Regions from separate parts of the Homo sapiens genome. Here region 2 is reported to be linked to region 1. Evidence: microRNA targets listed by miRTarBase, many of them from high-throughput screens and not tested one by one. Region 1 holds a microRNA gene; the other region holds the end of a gene's coding sequence.

What was found. Region 1 holds the annotated microRNA hsa-miR-580-5p (UAAUGAUUCAUCAGACUCAGAU, at 3,072-3,093, shown strand). A microRNA usually pairs through its seed, bases 2 to 8, with sites in the 3' UTR of a target mRNA and lowers its output. Matches are read on the target gene's strand: a 7mer-m8 pairs with bases 2 to 8, a 7mer-A1 pairs with bases 2 to 7 and ends in A, and an 8mer does both.
Region 2: the mRNA of TNR is a reported target of hsa-miR-580-5p. The part of its 3' UTR that is shown has no 7-base or 8-base seed match.

The regions. Positions count from the first base shown.
Region 1 is chr5:36,143,687-36,151,038 of GRCh38, reverse strand. MIR580 (microRNA 580) reads left to right here and starts at 3,051; the gene lies at 3,051-3,147. All of the region lies in intron 1 of LMBRD2 (LMBR1 domain containing 2), which reads left to right.
Region 2 is chr1:175,317,424-175,324,775 of GRCh38, forward strand. It overlaps TNR (tenascin R), which reads right to left. Exons shown (of 23, transcript NM_003285.3): 22 at 6,933-7,096; 23 at 1-6,053. The coding sequence ends at 5,934. It overlaps LOC105371623 (a long non-coding RNA gene), which reads left to right. Exons shown (of 4, transcript XR_001738302.2): 2 at 3,559-3,698. Among named protein-coding and RNA genes, the nearest start is that of KIAA0040, 130 kb to the left of the region's middle.

The sequences.
Region 1 (7,352 bases):
CCCCGGGAAAACAGTGGAAGAGGGAAGGGGGATGAATTCTAAGCCTCATAAAAATGAAGATTTATAAAGTTCATAAGGAAGCATAACAGCTTCATCGCATATTAGAATATTCAGTGATGCTGTATGACACACCCTCTGGTTTCCTTGAAAAAATGATTCGCTCTGTAGTGAAATTAAACCTCCCTTGTGCAGGTATATGCTTGTTTCAAGCTTGGTCCTTAGCTTGAAAAGTAACTGCCTCTTGAGGAAGGAATTCATGAACCTTTAGCTCGTTCTTGAAAGATGAGATTGGTGTAAAGAAGGGATCTGTTCACAACTTGGTTTTGATTGGAACTAGGTGCAGAATCCTAGGCTAAGCCGTTCATCAAACTAATGTTATATGGAAAGCATTTTAAAATGCAATATCCTGATGTTTTACAGAAAGTGACCTTTATGTTACTTTGGCTAAGGAGAAAGCATTTGCCTTTGTTTGAAGCTACGTCCTTTCCCTGAAGATTGCAACTCATAGGAGAAAATATTTTTGACACAAAAAATTATAGTTTCCTTCAGGAAAGGGAACAAAACAGAGAGAGCCTGTAAGCTAATGGAGGAGAAAGAATAAACAAAAATATTTAAGATGCCATAATGAGAATAAACAGTTTTGAGATGTAAAATAATTGGGAGAGCCCACTTCAGATATAGATCTCATAGATAGGAAGGTTTAATCGATGAGATGATTCTAAATTTAAAGATGAGAAATATCTTTGTTCAGTCTTGGTTTTACTAGGAGTTACCTGGGAACTAGAATACTTGCAACATCTGAATTAGTGAACACAAGATCCTCTCTAGGACTTCAGGGAGAGCCTGTCAGTTTTGAAATTCAGTTTGATAGTTTGCCCCGGTAACAGACATACTTCATCTTCCTAATATGGGAATAATTTTTTTTTGCCTTCCTTCTAATCATGACTATTGCCTTAATATAATAAATGCAAGTTTAAATTGGTACATTAGATTCTTTTTAACGTAAGGAATTGTGTCCATTGAAGACGAGATTAGTAGGTACATAGAGGTTGCTATCTGGTCATAAAGAACTGCATTGTGATTGCTACTGATGTATCTTATTTTTTCTGATTAATTTTATTTTTATTTTTTGAGAAGAAATTTCACTCTTATTGCCCAGGCTGGAGTGCAATGGCGCAATCTCGGCTCACCATAACCTCCACCTCCCATGTTCAAGCAATTCCCCTGCCTCAGCCTTCCTGAGTAGCTGGGATTACAGGCATGCGCCACCACGCCTGGCTAATTTTGTATTTTTAGTGGAGACGGGGTTTCTGCATGTTGGTCAGGCTGGTCTCGAACTCCCGACCTCAGATGATCCACCCACCTCAGCCTCCTAAAGTGCTGAGATTACAGGCGTGAGCCTCCGTGCCCAGCCGATTCTTACATCTCTTTAAAAGGAAGACGGTCCACCCTTCTTTGTTTCTCCATCCTGCTGTCTAGATGATGATAGGATTCCTGGAGTTCCAGCATCTGTCCTGGAACATAAGGATTAAAGCCACCTGCTAAGGATGTGGACTATAGAAGGGGCCTGGGCCTCTGATAATCTGCTAACTTGCCATAACCACCTATCTCAAGACTTACACGAGAAATAAATTCTGCATTGTATAAGTCTGTACTATATTGGACTTTTCTGTTATGTGTAGCCAAACTAATCTTGAATAATGTATTTCCAGAACTGATAGTCTCTGTGGTGGTGGCAGCTACCTGTTTACATAACCCTTATCACCCCCTAATGTATTTTTTTTAATTGCCTGTTTCTTCCCACTAGACTTTTTAAGGGCAGGGACTTTGCTTGGATTTTTCTATCTCCAGCCCCTTGAACAGAGCTCACCATATAGTAGGCGTTCAGTAAATATTTGCTAAATGAATGAATGGTGCTTGGAACTAAGTAGATCTTTAATTCATTGTAATTTAATGCTCTAAGATAGGCAGCTTGGGGCAAGAACAAACGGATTCTAATTTACTCTATGTTTTCCACTTTTCCCATGTAGAGTACAGTCATATATTACCCTTAAATCAAGTAATAGTAGTATAATCTGTAATGTAAAAAGTTTGCGTTAAATTCTTTATTAAACATGACTAAGCATTCTGTCCTGATATATCTAAAAGAAATGGGAGAAAGTTTCTAATTTGTTCCCTGTGAAGACTGAACAAAATAAATCATTAAGCAATTTAAATTGCATTAAGAAACTATGTCTAGATTAGAGAAGAGACATGTAATTATGATCCAGGCTCTGTAGTAAAGATGCCTCTATTTGAATCCCAGCTTTACCATTCACCAGCTCTGTTAACTTGGACAAGTTACTTAACCTCTCTGCACTGTTTTTTTTCTGTTAAGCAAGGAAACGAACAGCCCTTTCTTACTAGGTTGTGAGGTCTAATTTGATAAAGCTTGGCAGGTACTAGTATTAATACAATGCTTAAAATTTAGTGAACACATTCTAAATGTTAGCTATTCGTTTTTTGAAATTATTTTATTATTAGGAAGGACTTTACAGATTATTCTCTATCAAAATGTCTTGCAATTTCTATGTATGAAATCTTTAAGAATTCAGTAAAATTTTAGTTCTTTTTTCTTATATGCTTACATGATTGCTACCTCTTCTCTTCATGCCTTGCAAAAGGTAAAGCAGGACAGTATGCCACTGTCCTCAGGGGCTTGTCACATTTTGGAATTCAGGTTACCTGGTTGGTTCGCCAACTCAGCTCTTAGGTACCTTTAAAAAATATTATGATGGTTTTTTTTTTTTTTTCATTTTTCGAGTGGGAGTAATAGTCTCTTGCAGTAGTCTGTGTCCTAAACTGAACTCTCTCATACCTGAAATCTTTAAATATGTGAATAACGATTATGTTTGGAAGATTTAAATTTAATTATTGGTGGAAAATTGTTGACTTAATCATTCACTTCTAATTCTGGTTCTTTTGATTTTTCATAATTAGGATTTTGAGTTGTCTCCTGGTTTTTATTATTTTGCACATATCTGAGTAAAAATACAGATATGTGAAGTTAGATAAAATTTCCAATTGGAACCTAATGATTCATCAGACTCAGATATTTAAGTTAACAGTATTTGAGAATGATGAATCATTAGGTTCCGGTCAGAAATTTTTCATTCAGTTTCAGAATCTTTGGTTTTGACAAAATTGTTGTCAGTGTTTTGTTTGTGTTCTGATCACTTGGTACCCATTCTCTCTCTCTCTCTCTCAAAACATTTGGAATTCTTCAAACTACAAAATTATCTTAACCTCTGAAGTTCCATCAAAGGGTATTTGGCCTGAAAAACTATTATCAGCCGTAAAGTACTCAGGAAACAGTACTTTAGTCAGTAACATTAGTCAGTAACATTAACACGCTAATTGTGAAACCATTATAAAGGCATTTGAAAGTAATATTGAATAATATTTTGATGATTGGAAAAAGATTGAATTGGATTTTAAATGTTTAAGACTTTCAGAACTGGTGTTTTGAAGGGTACGATATGCCCACACATCGGGCACTAAAATCTGGTAGTTTTAATGAATTGCCATTTTGATTTCGAGTATAATCAAGTTTTGCTACTGTGGTGCTTAATCACATGGAACTGAATTTTTATTTACCTCCCCATTTTAGTATCACCATCATCATCATTATCATCATTATCATCCCCTTTCTTCTCCTTCTTCCCTAAACCTTGCAACTCATCACTTGAATGTTGGCACAAGGTTAAAGATATGGACTTTGAAACTATTATTTTCTCAAGTTAGGAAAACCCCAATTTTTATCTCCAGTTTCATGGGATCACTGGTCCTAATCTGTGTCATAATAAGGCAATATAGTTCGGCCTCAACAGAAATAGATGGTATGGTAAACAGAATAATAAACCCCTAAGAATGTCTATGCTCTTATCTCTGGAACCAGTAAAAATGATGAAATTATTCAGGCAGGCCCAGTGTAATCAGATAAGCCCTGTAAAACAAATTTCAAGTGTGAGAAGAATTTGACAAGCCATTGCTGCTTCTAAAATATTCAGGACCACAGACACACACACACACACACACACACACACACACACACACACTCACACACACACACACACACGCAGAGAGAGAAGTGAGTGAGGAGATAGATATGTTAATTTGTTTGACTATGGTGATTATTTCACTGTATATGTACAGTATATCAAAACATCACTGTTGTGCACTTTAAATATATACAATTTAAAAACATATACAGAGCCACATGCAAAGACTGGGGAGAGGCCTCTAGAGCTAAGGTTAAATGCCAGCTGTCAGTTTGCAGGGGAACAGGGATCTCAGTCCTATAACCATAAAGAACTGAGTTTTGGCTTGGCTAGGTGGATCATGCCTGAAATCTCAGTGCTTTGGGAGGCCAAGGTGAGAGGATCACTTGCAGCCAGGTATTTGAGTCCAGCCTGGGCAACATAGCAAGACCCTGTCTCTACAAAAAAAATTTTTTTTTAAAATTAGCCAGGCGTGGTGGTGTGCACCTATAGTCCTAGCTATCTGGAAGCTGAGGTGGGAGGATCAGTTGAGCCCAGGAGCTCAAGGTTATGTTGAGCCATGATCATGCCACTGCCCTCCGGCCTGGGCGACAGTGTGAGACCCTGCCAGTAGCCTGAATGAGATTAGAAATGGATTCTTCTTCAGAGAAAGATGCAAACCTGCTGACACCTTGATTTTAAACTTGTGTGACCCTAAGCAGAGAACTAAGTTGAACTATGCTATGTTTGAACTTCTGACCTACAGAAGCTATAAGATATTAATACTAAATGGATGTTGTTTAAAGTCACTAAGTTTGTAGTAATTTGTTACAGCAGTGGTAAGATACTAACACATGAAGTGTGGGAAGGTATGTAACCAAATCATTTATTACTAGAATAAAGGATCCATAATTCTATTTCTTCATCTACAACCCTTTAAAGTGCTGACTATGAATCAGACTGAAAAACAGAGTGCCATAGTAAAAAAATTAATAGCTAGTGTCAGGTTTATAACTGATTTTGTTGTTTGCTTATTATGCCCATAATCTTACCACCTAAAGACTATTGATGTTTTAATATATTTCATTGTTACCTTACTCTTTTTTATGCTTATGTAAAAATATGTGCCAAATTTTCAATTGCTGTTAGGGTAATTTTCTGATGTTATTAAATAATCTTAACAAACATTATTTCTTATACTACAATAATATTTCATCATTTGGCTCTGCCATGCTTTATTTAGCATTTCTTTGGTAATCTCTAATATTTAGTCTTTTTTTTGTATGATTGTCATATTCCTTGCACTGGACAATTTCAGGTCTAGTTCAAGTCATAAAAGGATTTTCAGTTAATTATGTTATATTTAAACTCACATCAATTGGGTTTTTTTAAAGAAAAAAAACCCTAGATCTCGAAGATGGTTTTGTTATCAGCACATTCTGCATTGAGCTTTCAGCCAACTACTTAATCTATGCTTAGCTTAAAAATAAGATTTGGCTGGGCGCTGTGGCGCATGCCTGTAATTGCAGCACTTTGGGAGCTGAGGCAGGTGGATCACTTGAGCTCAGGAGTTCGAGACCAGCCCAGGCAACATGGCAAAACCTTGTCTATTTTTTAAAACATAAGATTTGACTTTGTTGTGGTATAAGTTGTTTCATAGAATATGAAATTTGAAAATTTGAGTAGTATTTGGTAATGTTCAGAGTTTTAAGCCTTTTGAGTTGTAATAAGTATTTGTTAAATCAGTTTACCATTACACGAGTTTTACATTGCCTTTGAAGTCGTCAGTAATAGAAAAATAGTGTATGTACTAAACTACACAGTATTTTTTATTATTTCAACAAATATTTCTTGATACTACTGTATGCCAGGTACTAACTACATCAGACAACTGGAATATAGTATGGAATAAAATAGTCAAGTCTCTGCTCTCATAGAGTCTCTGGGGTAAGGGGAGAGGTGTGGAGAGACAATAAATATAAAGAATGTGTATTATATCAGATGAATAAATGCATTGAAGGAAAATATAGCAGGATAAGAGGGTAGAGATTGATGAAAGAAGTTCAATTTTAGATAATTAAGAAAAATGAAAATATTGACAGTTGAAATGGAAACTGTTTACCAATATAAAAAATAGTGAAGAAAATTGTTCATTAAATGTGATTTTTCTATGTGATAGTTCATGTAGGAGTATTTTGTATATAAATTTAAATTTAACCATTTAAAGTACTTAAATTGTCTTTTCTATTATTCTAAATAGTTTTAGTTAAAGATGTTTGTTGATTTGAAGTATTTCATTGGTTCTCCCTTATTTTGTTATTTATTTATTTATTTTGAGACAGAATTTTGCTCTTGTTGCCCAGGCTTCAGTGTAATGGCACGATATCGGCTTACTGCAACCTCTGCCTTCCAGGTTCAAGCGATTCTCCTGCCTCAGCCTACTGAGTAGCTGTGATTACAGGCACCCGCTACCACACCTGGCTAATTTTTGTATTTTTAGTAGAGATGGTGTTTCACCATGTTGGCCCAGGCTGGTCATGAACTCCTGACCTCAGGTGATCCGCCTGCCTTAGCCTCCCGAAGTGCTAGGATTACAGGTGTGAGCCACTGCCCCTTATTTTATTTTGTTGGGTTGATCACACTCTTGATTCTCTGTGTTAGGATATTAATCAATTCCTTGAAATACTGTAGTATGTAGATAAACAAAAGTCTAACATTGATTTTACAAAGGAGAAAAAGTTCATATTGCCTTTGATTAGTAAATTTTTTTAAGTATAGAGAGATATCAAATTTTTCAATTTTAAAATAGAGACTTTAAATCTCTATACTCTAACTTTTTTGAGTAGAGAGATATCAAGTAAACTATTCGCTGATGACTGTATCATAAAATTAAGAATGTTTTCAAATGTATGACTTTAATAGTCATTGATAAATTTTCTGCATATAAAATAGTAGAAAAATTAAAAATGAGAATTTATCAAAGTAAGTTTAAAGATTTATGTAGATAAATGGAAGTGATAAATATATTTTGTAAAGCAGTGAGTAAGAATTTCATGAAAGTTGAGTTGTTAGGTGAAATTAACACAAAAGAAAAATACTATTTCAAAAAACAAAAGGTTACTTTTAAATGGTCTCTTTCCGTTTTTTCCTTCCTCTCTTTTAGAAAATCTTAAATTATAGAGGATGAATAATCTTAGTAAAATGTATTTTACTAAGTATCTAATTTCCTAGGATTTAGTTAACAGCTTATTTGCATAAACTATTCTGTTAGGACTTATAATATTAAGAAACAAACTCCAGATGACACTGTATTAAAACTGTTCACATCTAAAA
Region 2 (7,352 bases), not on the chromosome of region 1:
CAGTGTTGAGCATATTAGTGCTCCATGTCAGAATATTAAAGAGCAACACAGGGTCTCCCTAGGGGCTGCTAAACCAGTGATGGGAAGAAAATAACAGTTCATGCATTCTTGTCCTTGTGTTCACTTACTGACAGTGCATCTGGACTGAAACCCTTTCTTGTGACCTAGGTGTTCTAGACCTGTTGGGTGTATGGCTTGCTTCTCAGGGAAGATGTTTGCACCACCTGACCTGAATCCATGGTGCCAGTGAGTGAGTGCCAGTACCCAGGAGAGCTGGCCTCATAAGGATAATAGAGTTAAATGTTTTTGAACTGGAACTTTAGCATTAGCCTGGCTTCATGGCCCAGACAATAAGGAGCTGTTTTATGAAGTTATCAGAGGGGGCTGAGTGTGTCTGAGGAACAAGAGCTGTGTTATTTGGATGCACTGCAAGAGCCTTATTAAGCTTGAGGAAGGAGAGAGGATTTCCCCTTTGGAGAAAATGCAACACTGTCCAAAGACTGTGAGGTTTGCCAAGGACATTTGGACAATGAAGTGCTGCAGGTGCAATGAAGTCATGTTTCAGGCAAAGATTGACCTTAAAAAAATAAACAGAATGCTGGAGATGACAAATCAGGCTTGTGACTACTGGTGACGCAAAAGTCAGATCCAGGCAGAACTGGTTGAGCAAAGAAAGAAAGTCCTTCTGCTTCTGGTTTTCGGTGCAGTGACAGGCCTTGGTGCCTTAGTTTCTCCTCAAGTTAAGTGGGTGAATGGCAGAAGCTCTGGTGGGAGGCTGGAGGCCAGAACGTGAGAAGCCAATGCTGCTTCCTCTCCCATGGCCGCTCCTGCCTTGTCTCTGCCTTTCAGTGTGGTGCCACCGGTAGAAGGCTTGTTTTGAATCTCCAATGATCCATCAGCTTCTTCTTAATTTTATATTTTTCTTCTTTCCACCTGTTTCTCAAGGCTTGATGAATGTAGAACTGGCATAAACAAATCCAGAGTGGATACAATTAGAAAGAACCAGAGACATTTTTTCAAATTGGACCTGAATCTACACCAATACATCATCTTAAAGCATATAGGAGTTACTTTCCCTGCTTGCTTTTGAAAGTTTTCATTTGGTCTGTGAGTTCTCATCTGGACTGGTAGTGTCCAAATGACCCAGTATTGTTGAAGAAAGCTTTATCACATATGTGTAGGATTGGGTTATGGAAGAAGCAAAGGTTTGAGGAGGCATTCAGCTAAACATCTTCAGGAATGTGGTCAAAGAGAGGCTACAGGAACAACCCCAGGGGCCAGCCTGTAACTCAGCTTTCTTTAGAGGATAGACCCTCTCTGTCATGGTAACCTGGATGAAAGCAGACCATCAGGGAAGTGAGGCAGAGCTGAGTATGCAGCTCCTGGCATCTGGGTGGGAGGCAGACTCCCAGACTTCACACATCTGCCCCATTCCTCTGAGGTCCTGAGACTCCTCCTGCAGCCGTGGCAAGTTTGAAGCAAGTGAAAACAAATTATCCCAACTTCTTTGGGATTATTGAAACTGAACTGAATTTTGAATCTTTCAGAGGTTTCTTAATAAAAATTTAAGAGTGGACAGTGAGATGCAAGGAAGGCGGAAAGTGTCCCCCAACCCCATGCCCTACCTCCTTGGAAGAAAAGACATGGAACTAAGAAATCAGATTGACTAGTATTCTGGTGATAAGAAAGCAAGCAGTAGAATACCATATATCCTGGGCATGTGGCCCCACCTTTCCTGAAATTCTGGGTGGAGGTTACAAAAAAGAAAAAGAAAAAGAAAAAATGTTTTCATGTCCCTAGGGTATTTGCAAATCCAGGTCACCAGCTAGTCTATTTCAACACCCATAGCTTGGTGTATCTAGTGTTCTTGCATGTTCTGTCTTTTCTCCAGAGGAGAGGACAAAGAGGAACTCATAAACTCTTTCCCAACTGATGCTTTTACAAGAGCTATTTGAAAAGATTCCACAATGACTTTTTGTCCCTTAATCTACAGCTCTGCTCTGAGACTGGATTTGAAAAGTAAAAATGTGATTAGGATTGTTTGGTTTGGCATTGAGGTTATTGGCAACCATGGTTCTTTAGGTCTGGCTTTGAAATATCAGGGTGCTGGTTGGTTCTCAGGTGGAAGGAAGCGGGGCATTAGGAGTCCTACCACTTTATGAGTAGTAGAGGGGGAAGTTGGTAGGTGAGGGACAGGTGGATTCAAATATTTGTAGATGTTTGCTTTGCATTTCCTTGCTGCCATATGTTGTTGTTGTTCTTTTACAAATCAATCTCCCATACAAATCAGCTGGCCGGTTTTCCTGAGTCCTGGTTTGGCTCTCCTGGAAACTTGGAGACGTGGCCTTTCTCAACCCCGCTGACGTTTCACACGGGGTTTCAGGAGGTGACTGCCACCTTGTGGCCACACTTAGCAAGTCCCCTTCCACCAGTTCACTGTGGTCTCAAGGCCAACAGTTTTCCACAGACTTGTCATTCTTGCCACCTCTTCTACACCTGACCCCTTCACCTTCCAGAAATAACCCTGGTGAATGTGCATCTGATATGTTGGAAATTATCTTTATATGTTGGGGAAATGCAAAAAAGGGAAACTGCCTGGACCTTGGGTCTAGACAGTGAATCTATTGCAGTCATTGGTGGTGGTTTTGGTTTTGGGTATTAGTACATATCCTGATGTGTCTGTAGTTAAACAGCCTCTGAGAAGGGTCTACCTCGATTCCTTTTGAGTCCCTTGAGGGAAACTGGTGTGCATAGGGTGGGTGCTTTGAGAGTATTGCTTACTGGATCTACCTTTGGGAAATGCAGTTGTGCTTGGAGGAGCAGGATAAGCAGGAATCAGCGAGGAAAGTTATGAGCATTGAGTCAAGTTGACCATAGACCTTGGGATGAGAGTGGGGCACAGTGTCTTTTAAACATGGTGAAAACTCATGAGAAAATCACCCTATTAAATAAAAGGAATCTATAAATCCTTTTATAGAGGGTTGAATAAGCTGATCTTTGAAGTCTCTTTCTTGCTTCAAAATAAAGCTATGCAATGCCGCTGGTACTATTTATAAAAATGTTCCATAGTGTAGAATGGTTTCAATAAAAGGAAGATTTTTGTTTCCACTGATGTTTCTTGACTTTCACCTGAATTGACAACACATAATCTTTTTCCATTTCAACTTCCTTGATGAAGTGGGCGTGCTGGCACCACCCAGGTACCTGGTCTCTGTTTTTATGGACAAAAAGAGTTCAGCCTCTCACTCGGCATGATCTTTTCTGCAGTATTTTCGTGTGTGTGTGTGTGTGTGTGTGTGTGTTTTACTTATGACTCCTGAATCAATCTCTCTCTTTTCTTTCCCTCCCTCCCTCCCCTTCCTTCTTTCCTTCCTTCCTTCCTTCCTTCTTTCCTTCTTTCCTCATTAAACAGGGAGTCTAGTGAATTTTCATTACCTAATTGTGCTGTCCCACCATGCCAATTTCTACTTAGGTTTTCAGATCACAGATTAGCATCATTGACCGTCAAAACTGAAAGGGAAATTAGAACTCATTCTAGTCTAATCTCTCATCTGACAGATGAAGAAACTGGCCCAGAGAGGTGAAACAACCCAGCCGATGTCATGTCGTAGCTAAGATGACAGCTGTTGGCCTGTACCTCGGCCCTCAAGTTTCCCATGCAATGTGCTTCCTACTATTCATTGTTGCCCCGTCTCTAGGTAAGTCTTCTGTAATTTACATGCTTGTTGAAAGGATCTGTTTCTGTTTTTTCCTCCTCCCAGTTTGTTGAAGCCCATGGTTAACTGAGAAATGCAAGTGGTGCCTAGGTTTTTCAGGGTTATGCCTGTCACATCCACACTGCCGCAGTGAACAAAGCCTAGAAGCCTGCGGCAAGGGAAGCGCCTCCATTCAATGGTGGCTGGCTGCATCCCCATGAGGTCCGAGGCCTGATGGTCAGCCCAAGGGACTTTTCATCTTGGTTCTCAAAGCTTGGTAAGAGTGAGGATATTTCCATTAGAAAATTGCCGACACTAAGGCTCATCCAGTAACTGGTTGGCAAAGGTACACACTGCTCTGGTCAGACAAACATAGGCACTACAGAAAATGGTGCTGGGCCTTGAGGAATGGGAGAGGAAAGGGAGAAGACAGCTCAGGGAACTGGGCATGGATCTGGGCAGATGTTGCGGGGATGGTTGCTGATATTGGATTTGGAGGAGAAATTGAAAGGTCACGGCTTCTAGAGCATCTAGCTCTCTTGGGCTTAAGATCAAATTGTGCTAGTGAAGACAGTGCATCTCATAAAATGGGAAGTAGGCCCACAGTTATCACCTATTCACCTTTGGATTTCTGGATGTAATTTCCTTTGGCTATTGTCATTTTTCCTTTGCAAGGCAGAATAATAAAAGAAGATGGAAAGGCTTCTCATGATCTCACCTCATTAAGAAGGTCATTCCTGTTTCCCATAGGACCAAAAAAGAAAAAAAAAATCAACCTCTTTCCAGGATTATCAGTCAGGGGTATAGCTCTCTGGGCATATACCTTCTTCTCCTGACTCTTATTAAGCCACCTACACTAAGGAGGGCTTGGGTGAAGATAGATATGAGGCCTTCGGTTTGCAATTCAGAAAAAAAGAATCTGTGACAAATAGGACCAGAAATGGAGAAAACAGGGCTAGGGAAGATCTGTGTTTCCCATGGAAACTATAATCTCTATGGCAGTGCCCTGATTTTGACTTCTTCAGTCCTTTCCTCAATGCTTGACCCAAAAGTGCTAAAAACTACAACCATCTCCCCCTCCTACCTTTGCAGAAAGTGACTGTCTGTCTGACCTGAGGGTGGGGGCAGTGGCTGATGACTCACAGGCACATAGCCACTGTGCCACCCAGGGCCAGGAGCAGGCAATGCCTTGGGAACTAGATTCCAAAATGCTGGTTGGGCTTTTGAGGCTCTGGGGTCTAAGACAGGATGGGATTAGGCAAAAGACTCCATCAGGGCCAGAAAAGAGCCACTGTTCTTGAAAGGTAACAGGACATGTGGCTGGTATAATAAGAGTGTCAGAAGATGAGAATCTTTGGCCCATTATAAAGGACTTGGGGCTGGATGCAGTGGCTGTAGCCTGTAATCCCAGCATTTTGGGAGGCTGAGGTGGGAGGATTGTTCAAGGCCAGGAGTTTGTGACCAGCCTGGACAACACAGTGAGACCCCCATCTCTACAAAAAATAAAAGAAAAATCAGCCAGGTATGGTGGCTCATGCCTGTAGTCCCAGCTACTCAAGAGGCTGAGACGAGAGGATCACTTAAGCTCAGGAAGTCGAGGCTGTAGTGAGCTGAGATTGCACCACTGCACTCCAGACTGAGCAAGAGTGAGATACTGTCAAGAAAGAAAGGAGGGAAGGAGGGAAGGCAGGAAAGAAGGAAGGGAGGAAGGAAGGAAGGAAGGAAAAGAACCTGGGTTGTTGGGATGCGGTGTAGTTGATCTGTTTCCTTTTAAGGGGAATTGTTGGCAAAACTCTCTTGCTGAGGCTCTTTTCTCTGGGCCAGTGTGAGAACCTGGCCATGTCAGGCTGTGACAAAATCACAAATACCTGGAAGGCAGAGGACATCTCAGAAGAAGGGTAGAAAAATGTGTGTGCCTGTCACCATAACAATCTGCACCCCACGACTTGGCTTTGAATTGGCCCTTTAAGAAAACTTCCTACTTCTCCTCCTTGGTGGGAAAGGAGGTGAAGGTTGAGGAGGCCTGGGTAGGAGGGAGAATGGAGACTGAGGGTCAGGCTCCAGGGCAGCAGAAACCAAGAGCAGATGTTAGCCAGCGGATTCCTGCGACATCCCTGCTTCCTTCACATACTCTTAATATGTTGCAAAACACATTGCTATTACCCTCCCCCCTTGTTTCATATTATAAAATACAAACAAATGACAGAAAATATTGGTTGGCTTGCAGCCGCCCACTGCTCAGAACTGTAAGGACTGCCGTTTTCTCCCTGCCATGAGACGGTGGTTGTAGGGGCGCATCTTCATTTCCACAAAGGGGATGGAGAACTCATGGCCTTTCCAATGGTACCAGTTGATGCCCTGGGCGTGAGAAAGATAAGCATGTCAGGTCATCCCCCACCATGGAACGCCCCACTTCAAAAAAGGGGTAATTATGGGAACAGGGAATCCACAATGTGGGGTTAGCTATTTTCAGCTAACATGAAGCTTCAAGGCCGAGTTCCCAATAAAGTGAAAGGGGCAGAGTCTCTTTCTAGCTTTCTCCTTAAATGTGCCGGTGGCCTGGGTCTTTCCAGGGAACATGTTGCAGGTCATTCCTTATTGCCAGCTTTGTTTTTGGCTTCCAGGAGTGGCATGCACCAGTAGATGGTTGTGAAATCCCAACAGGGTGGAAGCATTTGGAAGAGAATAACTGTGTTTGACTGCTCACTCCTAATGGGAGACTTAGGCGGTTTCTACCTAGGGTGACAAACCCTTTTGGTTTGCCTAGAACTGAAGGGCTTCCCTGATGTGGGCTGTTTCAGTGTTAACACTTAGAAAGTCTAGTTGGTCATGGTGGTCTCCCTGTCACCCAGCTTAGCCTATAAACTTGTGGTCTCTGATAGGGAAAGATTGTCCAGTTCACACTGGTATTTTCGATGTCTACCTTCCTGGGACCATTTTTAGGGTAAAGTTGAGTCTGTGAAGCTGTCCCCAGGACTGATAAGCTCTCTTCATGGGATCTTCTGGATCCAAGGGCTTCTCTGGGTAAGTTCTGGCTCCTGGGTCCTTTCCTTTCCTTCCTCTGGCTTCTACTCTGTCCTGATCTTATCCCATTGTCTGCATTATTTTTCTCAAGACTCAAAATATTTCTTTTTAAAGGGAAATGAAGGACTCACATGTGCTTTTAAAATATAAAGCTAAGGGAGCACGGATTCCACAGCTCTGGCTCATTCATAGCAGAGGTGGAGCATCGCTTACCTGACTGTGCCTGGACTCCCCGTACTTCCCATTGAGGTTGGTCCGGTGGCAGTTCTTATACCACCATGCTCCCTTGTACGACATGGCACAGTTAGTCACTGCAACATCATTGTCTCTATCCTCTGTGGAGAAAGGGCGTCCTTGATGATAGCTGAGGGAGTCCCCTGCAAAAAAGATACATTCATTAGGCTGTCCCATTTGTCACTGCTTTATCAGGATTTTCTGGACACTTGACCCACTTCCAGCAAACCTGGCTTCCACTTATGGAACCTTTTCATTTCCACCCAGTTTCTCAGAGTGGCTGTGCTGAACTCTTACTCCACCTTACCCCTGGGGCCAACCACTTCCATGCTACTCTCTCCAACCCACTTCCTAATCCCTTTGACCACCTTTGCTGAGAATTTTCTCCACTTAACCCCA